Regions from separate parts of the Homo sapiens genome. Here region 1 is linked to region 2. Evidence: fine-mapped QTL for protein levels in blood plasma. A gene starts in region 2. The other region holds a variant in brackets. All regions are shown on one strand. Distances are between the middles of the regions.

Region 1 (8,290 bases), 20 kb before region 2:
GGCTCTGTCCAGGATCCCTAAGCCTGTTCTGTGGCCAGCCTTTGCTCTCCACAAACACACTCCTATTCATCATATCCCTACCACTTCCAATTTGTGTCTAGCAGGGATGGGCCTCCCCCAGCTCCAGAGCCCTGGGATTAAGCATACCTGTGGGTAGCAGTGATCACCCAGAGGTAGGAGGGCACAGGTTGCTTGGCTGGCAGTTGTGATCTCTACTGTGAGATGCAACTGTGCCTATTTAGGGTCTCACTGAGCTGTAAATGGCAACACAGCCATGAGATTTCCTTGTAAGTGGATTTAGGGGGAACCCTGGGTTGACCACGACCATCCTAGGTGATGGGGAATGTGGGGTAGAGTTTTCATTTTGAGTTCCGTCAGTCCTCAGTGGTACCAATCTTTCAGCCACCCAGCAGCCTTGTGTGACCTGTCTCATGTACAGAATGAAACTCCTGCCATCTCTACATCCTAGGCTGGCGGTAATGGGGTCTCAACTCCCACTGTAGTTCTTATGGCCTGTTTCTCAGGCCCAGTACTGCTTTGTCCTGCATACATCTGATGCCTGCTCAGGCAGGCTGGGTGGTGGCTCACCTTCCACCTCCTGACAGCCCAGGAAGCTCTCTTAGGTACAGGCAGGAATAGGAGCAGATTGGGCCATGAAAGACCCTCTCTTGCTCCCTGCCCTGTCCAGAGGACATGTGCCTCTGCTCTTGGACTCTTGTCCCCTCCCTGTTCCATGCTAGGAGGCTCTAGTTGCTGGCTTCAGGCTGAGTTCTAGAGATATGGCCAAGCTCAGGCTTCAAGCTCACCAGTCAGAATGGCATCCAGCTTTGCCACCACCTGCCGTGCATTGTCCAGGCTGAAGCACA[T/C]TGGGGGCTTAAACTTCAGGATGTTCCTCCCAGGGCCATCAGTGCTCAGCAAAACGTAGTTCTCCTTCAGCCTGTGAGGACAGGACACCCCTTCACATGGCCTTCAAGGCCTTCCTCAGCCTGGCCTTGGCCTCATGTCCAGTGCTCCAGCCACACTGTCCTCAGAGCCTTCCATGGGCCAGTTCCTGCCAGGTCATTTTACTGGTCACCTCTCCCAGAGTCCTGTGCATCTGGCCCACAGCAGCCTGCTTGGAGTGCACTGCACCTGGCCCTGAGCCTGCTGCCCCACAGAACAGGCACCTTGCCTCACCTAACCCTGGAGCCACAGTCCAAGCCAAGAATGAATGGCCACAGGGAAACGCCAGACTGCAAGAGTCACCTGCATTCTCTGGTTTTCTGTGTGGTTTACGTGATGTATATTGTTTCCTTATATAGAGAATGTCCAACATTGCAGTTGGTGTAATGAGCTCCACGTGCCCCTCACCAGCTTCAGGCATCTTCCTGCCCTGTCTTCCGGGTTATCTTACAATTCCAGTTTAAAATGTCCAATTATTCTTAGGAAGATGGCTTTATCTTAACATCATTTGTAGCTAATAATCACTTTTAGTCCACAGTCTAACCTCATCTCTGAGATGAGGGGTCTGCATGATTGTGTTTATATTCTTTGATCATTGTTCCCCTTCTTTTGTAAACCTTGTTATTTTTATTTCTTGGGGGTGGGGAGTGTGCCTTCTGGTTTCATTTTCCTGTCCCAGTCTTCCTGGCACTGACCATGGCCACGCCAGAAAGAACAGGGCTTGGACTTTGGAGTTAGACGGCCCTGGGGCCAGATCTAGCTCTTGCCACCTAGCAGGGTAACTGCAGGTGACTTACCCATTTCCTCACTGAACTGGAAAAGCACCCCCAGGGTATTGTGAGACACGGGCTGAACTTGGGATCTGTTTCCTTCCATGCCACCTGACCATTCCGAATCCCTGAGGCTCCTGGGAGGGGGGTAGGAGTAAGCTGGGGATGTGACTGACAGCAGAGAGAAGGCGGGACCAGGAAAGGCCAAGTTCAAATACAGCACAGAGATTTACATCAATACCACGCGTGTCTCACAATTTGAATAAGGACACGTCAAATACCAGAAGAGCTTTCCATGGTGGGCGTGGGGGAAGGGGTAGGCCTGGGGAATGGAGATAAAAGGGAATAACAATTCAACTAGAAGGAGAAGAAGTCCTGAGGACTTGGGGTCCAAGTGAAAGGACAAGCAAACCAGGGCATTGGGACCGGTGGAGTCTGAGTTCTGAGACACCCCCGACCCAGCTTAGGAGCAGGAGTCTTGTCCATCCCAACCACCTGTCGTGCGGCATGGGAACCCTGAGTCTAGTGCTGCCACAGCTCCCTGGTATGAATAGAGAAGGTGTTTCCCTTCTCCAGGCCAAGGTGGCATTAGGGGTTCCTGGGTCTGAGTGCCCTGCTAGCTTGGGCATTCTAGGCAGAGGTGCTGCTCTGGTCTGGGAATAGCCTGTGTCTCATCTGCAGCCTTTGTAGTCAGGCACTGGGTACAGAACTGCTAACACCACTTATCTCTGTCCTCAGCTGATAGGATCAGCTGTCCCCCAACAACTGCCCCCACCCGCCAGCCCCAGCCCTCTTTCAATCAAGTCTGTGGCCCAGAGTGCTGGGGGTACAGATGAGGCTCCTTTCCACTGGCCCTGCAAAGAGGTACCTGTGGTGTCTCCTACTCCAGGAAGCAACTTGTTTCAAGAAGAAAATACCTTGATACCAAGTAGGCAGCCTCTTCAGTTGCTGGTGTCCTTGTGGCCTCATCTTTGATCAGATCCACACCAATGAAGAGCCCAACACCCCTGCAAGGGAAGGTGACGACATCTCAGGAGGCCAGGCCTGAGGGGCCAGGGTGCTGGCCTCAGCCTCTGGGCTCCTACCTGTGCCTCCTGAGGGGGCTGAGTGCAGGAGGCACCTTCAGAAGGTGGTGAGAATAGTTTCAGGGAATAACTGGGCTGGGAGAGATCTTTGGTGTGGACAGAGGAGAGAGGCTCAGGGGTAGCTAGGGATCAGGTCATGTCCTAGCTTTCTCCTCCCCAGGAGAGCCGTTTTGGGCAATAGCACCTCTCAGTGTCTCAGTTCCTCTTGAGAGCGGACATAACCCCACCATCCCAGGTTGTTAGGAGGTGAAGAAAATGGTACCACACTGGGCCTTGGCAGGTGGGTGGTGACTGCTGCCCCCAGAGCCTCACCTGACATCCCCGACGATGGGATGTTTGATTTTTTGCTGCCCGAGGAGCTGCATCAGGAAGCTGCCTACACTGGTGGCATGATCCTGGAGCTGCTCCTTCTCCAAGACATTCAGGACGGCCAGCCCCACAGCGCAGGACACTGGGCTGCCCCCAAACTGAGCCAGGGACAAAGAACATGTCAGATGCCCTGGCAGAGTGGGCCATGCCCCAGAGTGAGGGTGAGGCAGAAGAACTGCCACACGTGTTCCAAGGCCAGTGGCAAGAGCAGAGGCCCCAAACCCCTTAGGGCGCACAGTCCTCAGCAGTAGTAAGTGGGGTTCAACATGGGCTGTCCTGGCTTTCCAGGAGCTAATGTGACTGCAACTCAGGTCAGGTATCCCTGAAGTACAGTAGGAGCCCCTAGAAGATACAGAATCAGAGGAGAGGGTGTCCTGTTTGTTCCCACAGGGCTAGTCTTTACCAAGAGAGGCTTTAAGGCCCCATCTCCTGGGCCCAGACCCAGAGGACTGGATTAGGCACTTCCTCCTCCAGGGAGAGTGAGCGCAGCACGCCAAGCCCCACCCAGGAAAAGCTGCTTCACACCCCTGGAGGGCTCTGGCTCCTTTCCCTCGCCCACCCTGTCCTCATCCTGCAGGTATCTGAGTGGAGACCTGTGTTTTAGAGGATCACGAGCAAGGTGTCTCCTGCAAACCACGTTTTTTGTTTCGTTTTTAAACTACATCTTTAAAAACATCAGCTTTGTTGAGGTATAATTTATATATAAACTGTGTTTAAAGTATAAAGTTCAACGTGAGGTGACAAATGTATGTACCTGTGTAACCTCCCTCGCAGTGAAGTTGCAGAACATTTTCATCACTTCCTGTGCAACCGTCCCGCTACTACTGGACCCAGGCATCCACTGATCTGCTTTCTGTTACTATGAGATGGCTACAGGGGGCTTTGAAAGGCTGTGACGTACTCCTGGGAGTCTAGAAGGCCATTCATATGCATAGGGATGTGCTTATGCCCAGTGCTGTGTGCATGCTCAGGTAAGATCTAGAAAGCCCTAAGCTCTCACCACTGGCTACCTTGAGCCTCTGCAGAATGAGGAAGTAAAGTCTAAGGCAGTTATAAACTCTTGGCTGAGTGACTTACGGGTTCCAGGCAATTAAGGAGATCTAATGGTTAGAGGACCACTAAGCTAATCAAGCAGAGACTATAGTGGCCACACATGACAAAGAACACAACTTTACATAATTAGTTCAGAAAAGACATTAAACAAGAAAAAGGAACCACCATGGGGAGGGAGGAGAATATGATTTCCACAGTTGCCACATTATGTTACTTAAAATGTCCAGCTTTTAACAAAATTCTGAAACATGCAAAGAAGCATGGCCCAGACACGGGAGGAAAAAAAGCAATCAATGCAAACTGCGCCCGAGGAAGCTGACACTGACCTTACTGGATAAAGACTTTAAATCAGATGTTACAAACATGTTAGCTGGGTGCAGTGGCCCATGCCTGTAATCCCAGCACTTTGGGAGGCCAAGATGGGTGAGTTGCCTAAGGTGAGGAGTTCGAGACCAGCCTGGGCAGCATGGTGAAACCCCATCTCTACAAAAAATAAAAATAGCCAGGCGTGGTGGCACATGTGTGTACTCCCAGCTGCTTGCGGGGTGAGGCAGGAGGATCACTTGAGCTCCAGAGGCTGAAGCTGCAGTGAGCCAAGACTCCAGCCTGGGCAACAGAGTGAGACCCTGTATCCAAACAAGCAAACAGAAACAACCCCAAAACCAAATATGTTAAGAGACCTAAAGGAAACTATACTTAAAAAATTGAAAGCAAAGCATGAAAATGATGTCTTACCAAAACAGAGTCTAATGATAGATAAATTATTAAAAATCAATCAGAAAATTTGAAGTTGATAAGCACAATAAATGAAATGAAGCATTTACTAGAGAGGCTCAACAGATTTTTTTTTTTTTTTTGAGACAGTCTCGCTGTCACCCAGGATGGAGTGCAGTGGTGCGATCTCAGCAAACTGCAGCTGCCGCCTCCCAGGTTCAGGCGATTCTGGTGCTTCAGCCTCCCAACTAGCTGGGACTATAGGTGCATGCCACCACATCTGGCTAATTTTTGTATTTTTAGTAGAGACGGAGTTTCACTGTGTTGGCCAGGCTGGTCTTAAACCCGGGACCTCAAGTGATCCGCCCACCTCAGCCTCCCAAAGTGCTAGGAAATTACAGGCGTGAGCCACTGCACCTGGCAACAGCAGATTTAAGCCGGCAGATGAAAGAATCAGTGAAAAAAAAAAAAAAAGTCAGCCGGCCGCGGTGACTCACACCTGTAATCCCCGCACTTTGGGAGGCTGAGGCGGGTGGATCATGAGGTCAGGAGATCGAGACCATCCTGGCTAACATGGTGAAACCCCGTCTGTACTAAAAATACAAAAGATTAGCTGGGCATCATGGCGGGCGCCTGTAATCACAGCTACTCGGGAGGCTGAGGCAGGAGAATGGCGTGAACCCGGGAGGCAGAGCTTGCAGTGAGCCGAGATCACACCACTGCACTCCAGCCTGGGCGACAGAGCGAGACTCCGTCTCAGAAAAAAAAAAAAAAAGTCAATTGAGATTGTCCAGTCTGAAGACCAGAAAGAAAAAGGAATAAAGAAAAACAGTCATGTCTGGGCGCGGTGGCTCACGCCTGTAATCCCAGCACTTTGGGAGGCCGAGACGGGCGGATCACGAGGTCAGGAGATCGAGACCATCCTGGCTAACACGGTGAAACCCCGTCTCTACTAAAAAATACAAAAATTAGCCGGGCGTGGTAGCGGGCGCCTGTAGTCCCAGCTACTCGGGAGGCTGAGGCAGGAGAATGGCATGAACCCGGGAGGCGGAGCTTGCAGTGAGTCGAGATCGCGCCACTGCACTCCAGCCTGGGTGACAGAGCGAAACTCCGTCTCAAAAAAAAAAAAAAAAAAAAAAGAAAGAAAAGAAAAACAGTCATATAGACCCAAGGACACAAGCATACCAACATGCAAATGACTGTCCCAGAAGGAGAGGAAAGGGGCAGAACAAATATGAAAACGTTAAAAACCCTATGTAACTTGCAGTGAATTGAATGTTTGTGTCTCTCCCAATTCATGTGTTGAAATCCTAACCTCCAATGTGATGGTATTAAGAGGTGGGGCCTTTAGGTTATTAGGTCACAAGAATAGAGCCTTCATGAATGCGAATATGGTTTTCTAAAAGAGATCCCAGGGAGTGCTCACCCTTTCGACAATATGAGGTACAGCGAGAAGCTGGCTGTCAGCAACCCGGAAGAGGACTCTCACCAGAACCCCAACCATGCTGGTGCCCTGATCTTAGATTTGCAGCCTTCAGAACAGTGAGAAATCTGTTTATAACCCACCCAGTCTATGGTATTTTGTTATAGTTATAGCATCTTGAACTCACTAAAACATAACTTTTAAAGAAGTTAAAGCAGCAGTTAAATATCTTCCCACAAAACACAAGGCCCAGATGGCTTTATAGGTGAGTTTTTACCTTCAAAGGACAGATCATCCCAATTTTATGTAAAAGAAAAAGAAGAAATATTTCCCAATTTATTCTATAAGGTTAGTAGGACCCAGTTACCAAAACCCAAGGTATAAGAAAAAAATTTGAGCCAACATTTTACTCCTGAAAACAGAGCAAGACTCCGTCTCAAAAAACAAAAAAAAGTAAAGGAAAACACTGTAGTATGACATGCACAAAGGATGTAATTGGATTCCTGATTCACATCGTGTACAAAAATAAACTCCAGATGGATTAAGGACCTATATGTCAAAACAAAATGTTAAAAGACTTAAGAGGAAACATAAATGAATATATTTTATAACTTGGAGTAGGGAGAGATATCTTAAACAATATATGAAAAACACCGTCTATAAAACAAAATGATAAGAGTTGACAATGTTAAAATTTAAAACTTTATAAATATGTAAAGGGAGTGAAGACAGGTTATAAACTGGATGAACATATTCACAAATACACAATAGACAAGGGATTAGCATAATAGATATGTATGTGTTGGTATATACACACACACACAGACACACACACATACAAACAGACACAAAACTCCCACAAATAAAATTAAGCACTGGTAACTCAATAAAAAAAAAATGGGCAAAAGACACAAAAGACACAAATAGGCATTTTTTTTTTTTTTTCTTTGAGATGGAGTCTCTGTCGCCCAGGCTGGAGTGCAGTGGCGCAATCTCGGCTCACTGCAAGCTCCGCCTCCCGGGTTCACGCCATTCTCCTGCCTCAGCCTCCCGAGTAGCTGGGACTACAGGTGCCCGCCACCACGCCCGGCTAATTTTTTCTATTTTTCAGTAGAGATGGGGTTTCACCGTGTTAGCCAGGATGGTCTCGATCTCCTGACCTCGTGATCTGCCCACCTCGGCTTCCCAAAGTGCTGGGATTACAGGCGTGAGCCACCGCACCCGACCACAAATGGGCATTTCATTGAAGAGCAAACAAATGGTCAATAAACATATGAAGAGATACTTCACGTAATCTGAAATCAGGGAATGGCATATCAAGACCATACAAGCTACTGTTTTACGCTCCACTTGACTGGCAAAAATTAAAAGGCACTGAAGAAGATATAGGCCGGGTGCAGTGGCTCATGCCTTGTAATCCCAGCATTTTGGGAGGCCGAGGTGGGCCGATCGCTTGAGCTCAGGAGTTTGAGACCAGCCTGGGCAACATGGTGAAACTCCATCTGTACCAAAAATACAAAAAATTAGCTGGGCATGGTAGCATGCACCGGTGGTCCCAGGTACTTGGCAGGCTGAAGTGGGGGGATCACTTGAGCTCTGGAAGTAAAGGCTGCAGTGAGCTGAGATCGCGTCACTGCACTCCAGCCTGGGTGACAGAGTGAGACCCCGTTTCAAAAAAAAAAAAAAAAAAAGAATGCCGGATGCAGTGGCTCATGCCTGTAATCCCAGTGCTTTGGGAGGCTGAGGCGGGCGGATTACCTGAGGTCAGGAGTTCAAGAGCAGCCTGACCAACATGGAGAAACCCCATCTCTACTAAAAATACAAAATTACCCAGGTGTGGCGCATGCCTGTAATCCCAGCTACTGGGGAGGTTGAGGCAGGAGAGTTGCTTGAACCCAGGAGGCAGAGGTTGCAGTGAGCCGAGATCGCGCCAC
Region 2 (8,264 bases):
TCCAGTGGGAGGCGACCTCACCCACCGTCCCACCGAGGGCCCCCTCACAGGTCAAGTGTGCTGCCTGTGAACCGACTCCCCCGACTCTCCCTTGTCTGCCCTTTCAGCCCCCTCCCAGGTCACTCTCGAGCCAGGCCCAGGTGCTGCTGACGGGCCACCCTGGGTGAGGTCCTCTCAGGCGCCAGGGTGAAGGTCTTCTCCGGAGTAAAGGCTGCCAAGCGAGGCTGACACAGCCGAACAGCGGTGAGGGCGGGGCCGTCTCCTGAACTGGGCGGCCTGGAGACGGCGCTGTCGGGGAGGCGGCCCCGGAGACCACCCGCCGGGACTGCCCAACGGCGCCGCCCGCCTCGGGCCCTAGAAGCTCCAGCGGGGCCGGGGCAGCGGCCGGACGGGATGGGTAGCAGCGGCTTCCTAGCCGGAGGCGCGTGCGTAGTGCGTGCGTGCGTGCGTCGTGCGTGCGCGTGCCTCTCCGCGCAGCCCCGCGCCCCCCGCCGCCCGCCCCCCGCCCGGGTACCTGATGAGCCGTTGCCTCAGGGCCAGCGTGTCGGCCTTCGGGCGCTGGTCTGCGGCCATGGTGGGTGGCCGTCAGTCGGTGCCGTGACGCCACGCGGAGACGTCGCCGCGCGGGCTGGGCCTCCAAGGCCCCGCTCCGGGCCCCGCCCCTGCCTGGGTCGGGATTTGGGGCTCAGGTTCGCACTCGGCCCCGCCCCGAAGCGCCCGCGTTGCGGTGGTTCATTTCTTCGCTTGCCCACTGGGCCTGGCAGCCTTCCGGCCCGTGGTCGTGCCTTGGCAGTCCCGCGCAGGAACTCGAGCGCTGCCCCGTCTCTGGTTCCGGGACGCGCCCCGGGCCTCGCCCCGCAGGCCCCGCCCCGCAGGCCCCTGCGGCCTCCCTTCCGGGAAAGGGTCCCGGACGACCCCGCCCCTGCTCCCGGCGCCCAGGCGGGGCTCGGAGCTCCTGCAGGCCTTCTCTGGGCCAGACTCAGTCTTTGAGTCGCCTTGTGCATAAAATGGGATGAACTGTGAGGCCTAAGTGCGAGTATGTGACTGGTACCTTACCCGGGCCTGGTACACAGTAGGGGCCTCAGGGTGGGAGAAGCAGGTCCTAGGTTTTCCCAGCCCCATGAAGGGGCAGCAGGAAGAGCAGAAGGAGAGCCCAGGGTCCCTTCTGGGGCTGACCAAGGAGATCACCATGGGCTTGACCTTCAGGGCACCATAGTTCCTGCTAGAATCTAGGCAGGGTGAACCGGACGAGCTGTATCGTCGCTGAGAGAATCATGCAGCGTTTGGGCAAGAAGAGAGGTTGGGAATCCTCCTTGTGGTACATGTCGGTGACCCTGAAGCCCAGAAAGGGAAAGGGTTTTGTTGTCAGACACGCAGCAAGGCTGCAGAGGCTGGACTCCTACTGAGGTCTTCTTGACTCCCAGCCCAGGGAGTGAGAAGAAAAAGCCTCCCAAGGGGCTGGGATATGAGAGAAAAGCCCCCTCCTGGGGTGAGGCACTGGGGCTTTCTGCCTTGAAGAACCCTGGAACACGGGCCTGGGACTGCAGCAGGTGCAGGGGAGGCTCCTGATTGTCCCTTCTTTCTGTCCACATCATGATTCCCAGGCCTCTGCTTCACTCCCTCATTGCTGATTTCTTCTTCTCTTCCCAATACAGTTGTAAGATGCATAAGGCATTTATTGAACTCTTGACCTCAGATGATCTGCCTGCCTCGGCCTCCCAGAGTGCTGGGATTACAGGCCGGGTGAGCCACCGCACCCGGCCGCTTAAGGCATTTATTAAAGAACATTTGGAGTTTCTTTTTTCTTTATTGTGTAAAATATACATAACAAAATTTTACCATTTTAACCATTTTTAAGGATACAATTCAGTGGCAAAAGTACATTCACATCGTCGTGCAGCCATCACCACCATCCATGCAACAGGACTTTTTCATCTTCCCTAAAAGAATGGAATTTCTTATTTTTAACTGTAAAGCTGAATTGAATATTTTACATGATTTTTGGAAAAAATTCTTCCCAAATTAACTGCGAGGTTAACTGCTTGTGGCCTGTATTTTTTTTTTTTTTTAAAGAAAGGGTCTTATTCTGTTGTTCAGGCTGGAGTGCAGCATTGCAGTCTCTACCTCCCTGGGATCATGTGATCCTCCCATCTCAGCCTCTCAAGTACCTGCTACTACAGGTGCACGCCACCATACCCAGCCTGTACTTCGTTTCTGAGGATCAAGACCTCACAGACCGTGTGTGTGTGTGTGTATTTGTGTGTGTGTGAGTCCTATTTGGGCCCCGCCTTTCAGCCCTGTCTTGCAGCCCAAACTCCAGCCACAGCTGTGGCCCCGTGCAGCTCAGAGGAATCAGGTTGGCTCAGGGGCTTTTCCTGCTTTAAGGCAGAGGGTGAGAAGGCTGTAGCTGGGCCCGGCTAACATCTCACCTGCTCCTGGGTCAAGAGGTGATATAGTTGGAGGTCAGACCAGGTTGAGCCATTTCCTGGGCCAGGAGTATCTTATAGCATGGCACAGAACACCAGGAGGCCTCACCTTCTTCCTGCTCAGAAAAGCCCACTCCTTGTCTCTGGCCCTGTGCCAGGCACTCATCTGTCCTTTATTTCATGCCTGGCCCTCTAGGCAATGTTGGAGTCCAAGAGGGTAGGGGATGGAAGTGGCTGAGTCAGGATTTGAACCCAGGGCATGGTGTTTCTCAACAGGGTTGGCACCGGGATTCTTGTTGAGATGATTTGTCACTGGGTAGGACTGTCCTATGCATTTTAGGTGTTTGCTATCCCTGGCCCTGTCCCCTGAATGCCCAGGTGTCCTGCAATCATTGTGCTAACCAGAAGCATCCCATGTATTCCTAGTGGTCTCCTAGGGACCAGGAGGAAAGAGACCTGGTAAGTCCCCTTCACATTCATCTATAAAAAGGGATCGTCATCCTTGTGGTTAGTTTAGCTGTCATGGGACACAGCAGGACTCAGTAAATGTACTTCTCTCTCTTCCAGAAAGGGGTACTTTGAGGCTGTACTGCCTTTCTTGGCAGGAGGCCTGAGGCCCCCCAGTCCTTGAGTCTCAGCTGTGAAGCAGGGTGCTCCCCAGTGTCTCGGCTGGGACCTTGAACAAATCATTGAACCCTCTACCGCCTCTGTGCTCTCCCCGGGCACTTTGAGGACTCAGCCGACTCTACATTTTTAAGCTTGCAGTTGAAACGTTTGCAGCCATCGGGATACAAGGTATGAGACCGCAAGGGGGCAGCAGTGGGCCAAGAATGCCCCATCCTGCCTAAAGGAGCAGGAGAGACCCCCTCAGAAGACTGGGGAAGTGGGGGGAACACATGGCTTCTACCCCACGAGGATCTACCTGCCAATCACACAGCATCATGGAGCTGCCTATCAGATTCCATGCTCTGCCAGACAAGTTTCAGAAGGACGTATTAGAGGACAAACCCAAGAGCCTAGGTGCAGTCCCAAGCCTGCCACTATGTCCTGGCTGTGCATCCCTGGCCAGGTGACTACCCTCTCTGAGCCTCAGTGTTCCCCTATGTAAAATGGGCATATCGACACCTATCACACAAGCCCTGGGCTTCGCAGGGCTGGTGAGGGGATCAAGTGAGGTTCCTGGATGGAGGAAGGAGGGAACTGTGAAGTGTAGCATGCAGATGGTGAGGTTATGCTGGAACTCCAGAGGCGGCATGGACACCCAGTGACCTCCATCAGTCATCACAGCCCCACTGTGTTTCTCTTCCTTTTCCCACTACTGGCTTCCCTGTTGACCCAGACAACTGGCTGAGCGATGTGACCTTCCACTTATTGCCAGTTCCTTAGGGAGACAGAGGAGGGGACTGGATATATCTCTCCCTCCTTAGCCAGTGTGTGGCCGAGCCTCTTCTGCTTAGCAAGGCCATGTCACAGAAGTCTGAGGGTGACCACCCATACTGTGGCCTGCCCTAGGCTTCAGTCCTTGGAGACTCAGACACCATCAGTGCAATGCACCACCACCATCAGAGACACCATCACTGCAGGCCCTTTTTTTTTTTTTTTTTTTTTTTGAGACGGAGTTTCGCTCTTGTTGCCCAGGCTGGAGGGCAATGGTGCGACATCAGCTCACCACAACCTCTACCTCCTGGTTTCAAGCGATTCTTCTGCCTCAGCCTCCCGAGTAGCTGGGATTACAGGCATGCACCACCACCCACCTAATTTACAGGCATTACAGGATTACAGGATTACAGGCATGCACCACCCAGCTAATTTTGTATTTTTAGTAGAGACGGGGTTTCTCCGTGTTGGTCAGGCTAGTCTCGAACTCTCAACCTCAGGTAATCTGCCCGCCTCAGCCACCCCAAGTGCTGGGATTATAGGCGTGAGCCACCGCGCCCGGCCCATGGCCCTTCTTGCCTAGACCACCCTGGATGTGCTTGGTTTTGTCATCTGTAAGACGGTCCCTCTCTTAGTTGTTATAGGGACCAGCTGTGATGACAGAAGTGGGAACACTTTGCAGGACTGTGGCTGTTGCTCAGCAGCCTTGGAGTCAGGAGGAGAGATGAAAATCAGAATTGAGGGTGCTTCTGGGTGAGGGACACACCCTATACTCTTCGCATACTCTGCACTGGATCCTCACGGAACCACAATCTGAGTGGTAAGTAGTGCCCTCTCGTTTCACAGCTGAGGTGGCAGTTTGCATTTTTTCAGAGGGCTGCAACAAGATCTACGATTCCGCATTTTCTCTTTGAAATATGATGTTGACACTTTCCCGTGGAGAGGTGGGGTCTAACTCTCCTCCCTCCACTCTTTCAGAAAGTGACACCACATGACTTCTGAGACTTGGCCCTAAAAGGTGACACAGCTTCCAACTGGCTGACCTGGGACAGTCACTTTTGGAATCCAGCCACCATGTGGGAGGCAGCCTGGGTCACGTGGAGAGGCCACAAATAAGTATTTGCCATCTGAGGTCCCTGCTATAGCCATAAGCAACCATGTGAGAGTCGGAGTGAGAAGCACCCACACTGAGCCCATTAACCACAGACTGCACAAGAGAAATCAAAATGATTTTCTTTCTTTTTTTTTAAAGAGAGGAATTTCTCTATGTTGCTCAGGCTGATCTTTAACTTCTGGGCTCAGGCAGTCCTCCCGCTTCAGCCTGCCCAGCAGCTAGGACCACAGGCACACATCAACCCACCCTACTAATGTTTTTTAATTCTTTACTTTTGGTAGAGATGGAGTTTCACCATGCTGCCAGCCTGGTCTCGAACTCCTGGGCTCAAGTGATCCTCCCACCTTGCCCTCCCAAAGTATTGGGATTAAAAGAATGAGCCACTGTGTCTGGCCAAAATCGCCATTGTTTTAAGGCAACAAGTTTTGGAGAGATTTGTTATGCAGCAGTCTGCTAACCGCAATAGAGGAGCACACAGGGGCTCAATTTGACAGGTAGTGACTTGCCAGAGGACTCAGCTGATGTGTGGCAGGACCAGGCAGTGAATCTGTGTCTTCCGAACTCCAAATCCCATCTTTGCCCTGACCCTGAACTTCCTCCTTTGGTTTCTGGGATGGCTCTTACTCAGGGAGGGTCCCCTTTTCCCTCCCCACCCAGCAGTGGCCAGGATGAAACCACAGCCAGAGGTGCCCCAGGGGCAGTCCACAAGGACAGGCACACCCAGACACGCACTTGTGGTTTATTACACACAGTGATCTCCATCTACACGGAAATGGAAGGCAAGCAGCCAGGATGGAGCTGGTTGCTGGGAACACTTGCTGGAGGTGGAAAAGCCTCTCGTCAGAGCGTGGGTGGGTCTGGTGGCAGGCCCCCTGCTCAGGCCAGCTGGGAACCAGCCCTGAGCTTTGCTTTGCCTGCACAGCCCACCTAGAGAGCCATTTTTGGCCAGAGTTCTGGGTGGGAGACTTGGGGCCAGTGAGACCCAGACTCTGAGTGGGAGGCCTGCCTCCCTGGTCCAGGCCATGTCCTATCTTGTCCCTCTCTGGGTGATAATGGAAACAGAGACAGGAAGTAGCAGTCAGTCCAGGCTGGGCCCCTCCATCCTCGACACTCTGCTCCCTGGAGCTGGGTCCACATCACAGCGATCACAGAGCTCAGCCACTACTCCTGGCCAGAGGACATGTGCTCTCATGGCAGGCTGGCCTCCTGAGGCCTCCTGAATGTGGTAGAGCTAGACCCTCGTGGGGGATTTCCACTCACTGCTCCCCGGGCCCAGCCGCAAGTGCTGGGCGAGTCTTGTCCGGGGGCCAAGTCTTGTCCAACTGCAGAGGCAGCTGGTTGTGGTTGAGTTTGGAGGCTGATGAGGCCAGGAGCAACAGCAGCCGCTGTTCCACCCCTGGGTCTTCTTGGATAGGGTGTGTCCCAGGGACTCCAGAGTTTTGCGGGGGCAGGTTCTTACAGGGCAGTACCACAGCTGAGAGTCTCTCTGCTGATCAGGTGACTGAAGGCCCAACGTAGCATCTTTCTAGCCTTGCCCGAGCCAGGTGCTTCTACCTTCATCTCCTTCCTGGGAAAGCCCAGGCCCAAGGGTGCCCCTCAGGTACACATCTCCCTGGTCTGGCCTGTCCACTTTCCGGCAGCTTCACATGCCGGTGGCTTTGGGGCTGGGTGGGCATACTCTTGAATGTTAAAAGGCCACAGGTAGCGCATTCCATGAAAAAAGATCAATATATTACTGTTTTGTTTTTACAAAAATTAAAAATGTCCACACGGATCTGTACAGGTGTGAGCTGGGCCTGTGGGTCACTGGAAAAGGAGGAAGAGACTGAAGGTGACGAGGAGCCCGAGAAGCTCCGCCCCCATCCAGGCCACCTTGCCTGGCCTCCCCGGTCCTGCCCATTTCCTCCTATCTTCCCTCCCCCCACTCCCTCTCAGTGGGCCAGTTGGGACAATATCCCAGGGGGCACTGATGGCTTTGCCCTGCCTGGTCCAGGTGTCAGTTGAGTCCATGTGACCCACAGGATGGGTTATACACCATCACCCAGGACCACAGCCCCACGCCTCACATGCAAGATGGGAGAGTCAAAACCAGGGTCATGATGGGAAACCTGGCTATTCAGTCACTGTGCGAGAAGCCGCAGACACCCAGAGGTTTGAGTGACAGCACCCAGGCTCTGGGGCCCTCCCATTCCCCCACCCTCCCCTGCCTCTCCCAAGCCTGCCCTGGAGACTTCCCTGCACGGTACCTTATGCCAGCAGCCAGGCACAGGCAGCCCGTCGGGGCCCTGGAAAGGAAGAAGGTTTCAGTGATGGGGATGGGGCCTGGGGAGCTCCTCTACACCCCACATGCCCTCCCCTGGTCTGTAGGGAGGTGCAGGCCAGGGAGCGGCCATGTGAGACTGCTGGGCCCCACTGAGGCAGGGGCACAATGCCTCCTCTGTCCACCCAGGTAGTGGGGTCATGGGGTCATGGGGAACGACGGCCTCTCACTGAGCTTGTCCTGAGTGTGTTCCCTCTGTGCTTTGTGGGGACTGCTGTGCAGTGGGCAGGAACAGGAGGGCACTAGGAAGGGATGAGCATTGTGCCAGACATGTACAGGCTGGCCTGGGTCCTGCCGAGAGCCGTGTGGCTTCCTGTCTGATGTGACAGTGACTCTGGCCTGGGTCCTGCCGAGAGCCGTGTGGCTTCCTGCCTGATGTGACACTGACTCTGGCCTGGGTCCTGCCGAGAGCCGTGTGGCTTCCTGCCTGATGTGACACTGACTCTGGCCTGGGTCCTGCCGAGAGCCGTGTGGCTTCCTGCCTGATGTGACACTGACTCTGGCCTGGGTCCTGCCGAGAGCCGTGTGGCTTCCTGCCTGATGTGACAGTGACTCTGGCCTGGGTCCTGCCGAGAGCCGTGTGGCTTCCTGCCTGATGTGACAGTGACTCTGGCCTGGGTCCTGCCGAGAGCCGTGTGGCTTCCTGTCTGATGTGACAGTGACTCTGGCCTGGGTCCTGCTGAGAGCCGTGTGGCTTCCTGCCTGATGTGACGGTCACTCTGGCTCCTCACCCTGGGGCCTGCGAGCTTTCAGGCCTTGGGCAGGAATGGCTCCTGGAGGGTTTTAAGGATGGCCCAGGAATTGGCATCCTGCTCCAGCCTGTGCTGGCTGGAGCAGGGCAGGCTCAGGTTGCTGGGGGTTGGGGCTGGGCCTGGGGTAGGGCTATCTAGCGGCACCTGTGGTGCCCACCCAGGAGCCAGACATAAGCAGGGGCCGGGTTTCCTCAGGCAGCCTGGAGGGTGGGGAAACTGGAGAGGAACGAAGACTGACTCATCAGGGACACCAAGGCGCAAAACATGTCATTCTG

What was found. PIP is the chance, under the fine-mapping model, that this variant and not a neighbour inherited with it causes the effect. The UK Biobank Pharma Proteomics Project read protein levels with antibody pairs (Olink). The fine-mapping took linkage between variants from a reference panel, not from the people measured, so its PIPs are less certain.
Region 1: its variant is fine-mapped to the plasma level of the PHYKPL protein (UK Biobank, PIP above 0.99). The variant lies in the coding sequence of PHYKPL. If it changes the protein, the assay may bind it differently, which can mimic a change of level.

The regions. Positions count from the first base shown.
Region 1 is chr5:178,212,167-178,220,456 of GRCh38, forward strand. It overlaps PHYKPL (5-phosphohydroxy-L-lysine phospho-lyase), which reads right to left. Exons shown (of 13, transcript NM_153373.4): 9 at 3,110-3,264; 10 at 2,630-2,719; 11 at 807-937. Among named protein-coding and RNA genes, the nearest start is that of HNRNPAB, 12 kb to the left of the region's middle. RefSeq lists an enhancer at 810-919. The variant T/C (reference allele first, on the strand shown) is at 867.
Region 2 is chr5:178,231,978-178,240,241 of GRCh38, forward strand. It overlaps PHYKPL (5-phosphohydroxy-L-lysine phospho-lyase), which reads right to left and starts at 825. Exons shown (of 13, transcript NM_153373.4): 1 at 515-825. The coding sequence starts at 573. COL23A1 (collagen type XXIII alpha 1 chain) reads right to left here. Exons shown (of 29, transcript NM_173465.4): 28 at 7,164-7,202; 29 at 5,641-6,723. The coding sequence ends at 6,721. It overlaps LOC112267937 (a long non-coding RNA gene), which reads left to right and starts at 2,061. Exons shown (of 3, transcript XR_002956238.2): 1 at 2,061-3,221; 2 at 4,439-4,623; 3 at 4,782-6,691. RefSeq lists silencers at 250-569, 650-1,059 and enhancers at 449-987, 3,035-3,114, 5,485-6,158, 6,159-6,832, 6,838-6,887.